2 separate regions of the Homo sapiens genome follow, and region 1 is linked to region 2. The links come from fine-mapping of genetic effects on gene expression. Tissue or cell type: Th2 cells. Region 2 holds a variant in brackets; the other region holds the start of a gene. All regions are shown on one strand. Distances are between the middles of the regions.

The links. PIP is the estimated chance that this variant, and not a neighbour inherited with it, causes the effect.
Region 1: it holds the start of LRRC56, and the variant in region 2 is fine-mapped to the expression of LRRC56 in Th2 cells (Schmiedel 2018, PIP 0.95).

What each region holds. Positions count from the first base shown.
Region 1 is chr11:536,453-538,952 of GRCh38, forward strand. It overlaps LRRC56 (leucine rich repeat containing 56), which reads left to right and starts at 1,075. Exons shown (of 14, transcript NM_198075.4): 1 at 1,075-1,153; 2 at 2,146-2,408.
Region 2 is chr11:426,969-429,804 of GRCh38, forward strand. It overlaps ANO9 (anoctamin 9), which reads right to left. Exons shown (of 23, transcript NM_001012302.3): 10 at 2,790-2,836; 11 at 2,602-2,684; 12 at 1,754-1,858; 13 at 1,507-1,671; 14 at 1,390-1,426; 15 at 1,120-1,231. Among named protein-coding and RNA genes, the nearest start is that of SIGIRR, 13 kb to the left of the region's middle. RefSeq lists an enhancer at 1,578-2,777. The variant C/T (reference allele first, on the strand shown) is at 1,700.

The sequences.
Region 1 (2,500 bases), 110 kb after region 2:
GAATCAGAAATACATCCTCATTAAAAAACAAAAAGGGCCGGGCGCGGTGGCTCACGCCTATAATCCCAGCACTTCGGGAGGCCTAAGCGGGTGGATTACTTGAGGTCAGGAGTTCAAGACCAGCCTGGCCAACATGATGAAACCCTGTCTCTACTAAAAACACAAAAAATTAGTCGGCTGCAGTGGCGCGCGCCTGTAGTCCCAGCTACTCGGGAGGCTGAGGCAGGAGAATCGCTGGAACCCGGGAGGCGGATGTTGCGGTGAGCCGAAATCGCGCCACTGCACTGGGCAACAGAGCGCTACTTCGTCTCAAAACAAAAAAGGCGTTTTACAGTCAGGCAAACCCTGCCTCTGCCCAGTCCAGCGCCCGCCTCGCCCTCCTGCGCCGGTCGCTGCTGACCCGGGGCTCCACCCACGTGCGGTCCCGGGGGTCCCGCCTGCCGTCCGTCCACCGCGCGGTCGCAGTCAGAGCTCGGCTCGGGGCGGACACGCATGAACGCGAGTGAGAAGCGGCGACTGGACGGCGGGCGGCAGCGTGTCCCGCGGGCCGGGCACTCGGGTGCGCTCCGGCGTCCGGTGTGTGTTTCCTGGTCCTCGGGGGCGCTTCCCCCGGTGCTTCCTTTTGCCGTCGGCCTCACTTCCAACCGAAGGTCAGGACGGCAGGCCTCGGCCCCAGGGGCGACCCTTCCACCTGGGAAAGGTGGGCGCGAGCCTCCAGCAGAGACCGCCTTTACCCGCCCCGCGTGGGAAGCGCCAGGATCGCGAGGAAACGCGACACGTGCATCGCGACGGCCCAGGCACGGAGCCGCAGGAAGCTGGCACCTGACGCGCCTGCGCCCACCCAACTCGAGTTGGTGGCGCGTCACCTTCCCCTGGGATCGCCCGCAGCAGGGGCGCCCACGCACGTGCCAGTCCACGTGGCCCCGCCCTAGCGACCGTTGCTAAGGGGCGTGGCTCAGCCGCACGGAACCCGAGCCCCCGGCGACTTATAAATATTTGCGTATTCAAATGAGGCCTGGCTCCCGTTGCTATGGCGCCCAGGCCGCAACCCCGCGGCGGCCGGAAGAACAGCCTGGAGTAGGAGACAGCGCCTGGAGGTGGAGGGCGCCCAGGGCCGAGCTGCCAGGGCCGGACACCTAGGCTGAGCCCTCAGGTGAGAGCCGAGCGCACCCTTGGGGTGGGAGCCGCAAGCCTCGCCCTATGACCGGTGCCAGGAGGGAACCTGCGCCGAGGCGTGGGCGCGGGGACGAAGCAGCACAGCCATCGGGGACCCAGTGATGGCCCCGCATGTCAGATCTGGTCCCCTGAGGACCCTTGCCTCCACCACCCCCTGGCCCTGCACTGAAAGGGCTCCCTGTCAGGAGACAGGAGGGGCCCCAAGCCCTGCCCCTGAGGGAGACTCAGAGGCAATGACCCAGGGTGCTCAGGGTTCCAGGGTGGGGCTCAGGAGGGGAGCGGGCTCTGCCTTCCGAGCCCCCATGGTGAAGGGGCGAGGGCAGCAGGGGACCCAGAGGTGATGGCTACCCACCAGGGAATGGCACTAGCAGGGGTGTGGAGACAGGCCCCCCAGTTACCAATTTGGGGAGCATGGGGGCTTGCAGAGGGGACACAGGGTGGGAGCAGGGCCGTGAAGTGTGTGGATGGGTTCAGGCCTGGGTGAGAACACTAGGTGCAGTGTCTGAGGTGGGAGTTCAATGGGGTCTTTGGATCCCACAGCCTCCAACCCCTTGCACCCCCAGGCCTTGGGGCTCAGACCAGTCTGATGCTTGGGGCTCTTGGGCACAGAGGAGACAAGGGTAGCTGACTCAGCCCTTAGTGTCACCCATAGGTGTCCAGGGGCTGCCCGTGACCCCGCCAGCTCACGCCCTCCATGAGGCTCGAGGCTGGCAGGCCTGGGATGGAGGTGGCCAGAGTCTTTGGGGGGATGCAGTGTTGGGGTCCTGCTGTGAGGCCTGGGGCCTTGCACTGGCTGGAGAAAGGCAGGCAGTGGGGGAGATTTGGGCTGGAAACTCCATGAGATTCTGCTTTGGGCTTCACTTCTTTGATCCTTGGTGCATGGTCACCTTCCAGACCAGGCCAGTGAGGCACCCAGAGCCTGAGCCACTGCCCCGCTCCAACACTCCCACCCACCACCTCTGTCAACAGCCGGCCAACTCGCCTGGCACAGGGGCAGCTCTAGACGGGATGGAGAGGATGCATCTTCAGTGTCCACACGTGGTCAACAGATAAAAGCCATGGCCAGAACGTTCTAAGTGGCTACATGTGCATCTGCCTGTTCACGGATTCCTTCGACAAATATTTGAGCATCCCCTCCTGCGACTGTGGACAGCAGAGGAGCACGCAGGCCACGTGCAGGCCACGTGCAGCCCACAGCTCTGGGGCGAGGCAGGCCCTCAACCGAACACGTAGTAAGACACACAGGGCTCCGAAGGGAACTCGTCTCATCAGGAAGATAAATCTGGGAAGGCTGGGTGGGGAGTGCAGTCAGGGGATCAGTCCA
Region 2 (2,836 bases):
CCTTCTGCCTCCAGACAGGAGACCAGGGTTCACCCGCAGGAGCTTCCAGAGTGAGAGGTCCCACCAGGAGAGACGTGGCCCACAGCAAGCCATGGTGCACGCCTTTCCCAAGACGGATGGGGGTCAAGAACCAGCATCTACAGGGCCAGACGTGGTGGCTCACCTGAGGTCAGGAGCTCGAGACCAGCCTGGCCAACATGGTGAAACCCTTTCTCTACAAAAAATACAAAAATTAGCTGGGTGTGGTGGTGCGCACCTGTGGTCCCAGCCACTCAGGAGGCTGAGGCAGGAGAATTGCTTGAACCCAGGAAGCAGAGGTTGTAGCGAGCCAAGATCATGCTACTGCACTCCAGCCTGGGCGACAGAGCGAGACTCCATCTCAAAAAAAAAGTAAAGCTGCAGCCAGCATCCCTCTCACCTCGCCTTCCTAATTAGTGAAATGAGTCTTTCTGGCTCCATCAATCCATATGCACCTTTTTTTGGCCAGGTGCAGTGGCTCACGCCTGAAATCCTAACACTTTGGGAAACTGAGGCAGGAGGATCGCTCGAGCCCAGGAATTCGAAACCAGCCTGGGTAACACGGTGAGACCCCATTTCTACAAAAAATATTAAAATTAGCTGGGTGTGGTGGTGCACGCCTGTAATCCCAGCTACTCAGGAGACCCAGGAGGTCAAGACTGCAGTGAGCCAACATTGTGCCACTGGACACCAGCCTGGCGACAGCAAGACCCTGTCTCTGTCTCTCTCTCTCTCTCTCTCATATATACATGTATACGAGGATGTGTGGGCAGGCAGACCCAGGAAGACACCAAGTGCATTTTCAGCATAAAGAGCAGGTGCAGTTATTCCCAGGACAAAGCCATTTCTGCCAGTGCTGTTATGCGCCTGCAAATGCATGAAAAAGCCTGGGAGGCCACCAGACTGTCTTGATGCTACCTCGGGGCCCGGGATTCAGGAGCTGGGCTCACTGCAGGCTTTGCTCACATGTCTCTAGATTGGATTTCCACTTGCTCTCAGCAGAAATTACTTTTAAAATTAAAAGAATGGACATTGCCACTTTAAAGGCAGTGGAACAAGCCCTCGTGAGTTGGGTTGGAGGGAGCCTGGCGCCGGCCCTACCTGCCCAGGATGAAGGCGATGTAGATGAGAGACGAGAAATGGGTGAAGAACTGCAGTGTGAAGAAGCGGATGGTGAACCTGCTCTCTCGCTCCGAGAAGGTCCTGGGCATCTCTGGAATGGGACCGGCCCTCACCTCTCTCCCTGCTCATAGGAGAGGCCCTGGGGCAGCAGGAAGGGTCCCCTCCCCTGCTCTCTGACCACAGCCCCAAGGCCCCAGCCCTGAGTCCTCCCGCCGGGTCCCCCAAGAGGGTCTGGGGTAGTCCTCTCACCGAAGTCACAAAGCTTCAGGGCCACGCACCTGTTGATCTGCGGAGGAGGGCACCGAATGGGCTCACTGGGGCTCCGGTGGACCCCCCAGCTCGGGCCTGCCCTGCTCCCGGCCCCACCTTGGTCATGATGATGATGGTCACATAGTGCACCAGAGCCCCGGTCACCACCACGGCCGTGGTCACCTGCTCCTCCAGGAAGGGCACGGCCGAGCTGCTGAAGAGCGCGGAGGCCAGGACGCGGTAGACCACCAGGACGTGGGCCATGCCGATCATGAGGCAGATCTGCGGGACAGCTGTGGTGGGCGGGGGC[C/T]GGGGAGGGCATGCAGCCCGGGTCTCCAGCCCCACCGCGGTGTCCCCTGCGTACCATGAGCAGGGTCAGGACGAGGATGACGGTGCTGCGTAGGTAGGAGTGCTGGTATGGCCGGAGCTTGTAGTCGGGGCAGTTAATGAGCTGAAGTGCCATTTCCTCCTGGGGAGAGCACCGGGCAAGCCTCAGACAAGGGACACTCACCCCACATGTGGGGAGACAGACACAGAGACACACCTCACGGGTGGACAGACACGGGACACTCACCCCACACATGGGGAGACAGACACGGGACACGCACCCCACACGTGGGGAGACAGACACAGGGACACGCCTCACGGGTGGACAGACACGGGACACTCACACCACACGTGGGGAGACAGACACAGGGACACGCCTCACGGGTGGACAGACACGGGACACTCATCCCACACGTGGGGAGACAGACACAGGGACATGCCTCATGGGTGGACAGACACGGGACACTCACCCCACACGTGGGGAGACAGACACAGGGACACGCCTCACGGGTGGACAGACACGGGACACTCACCCCACACGTGGGGAGACAGACACAGGGACACACCTCACGGGTGGACAGACACGGGACACTCACCCCACACATGGGGAGACAGACATGGGACACGCACCCCACACGTGGGGAGACAGACACAGCGACACGCCTCACGGGTGGACAGACACGGGACACTCACCCCACACGTGGGGAGACAGACACAGGGACACGCCTCACAGGTGGACAGACCAGGACACACGCCCCACATGTGGGGAGACAGACTCGGGACACACACCTCAGACACGGCAGGCATATGTGGGCCGTGCAGGGCATCGGGCGCCAACAGCCCCTGCTCGGGTCGGCCTCAGCTGCGCTGCCAGCTCCACCTCACCTGTTCCTCGTCCCACACGTACAGGTCCCAGTGCAGGACCACGCGGGCGCGCTGCCGCTTCCAGATCTCCAGGAACACCGTGGCTGCGGCGGGGGCAAGGAGGGGCATCACTGCACTACGCCAGGTGGACCTCGGAGCTTGGGCTGGCACTTCCCCTGGCCCCGCAGAGGCGTCCCGCAGCAACTCACCCCAGAGAGCCATGAAGATGGCGAACACCACCGTGCCATCATTGTCA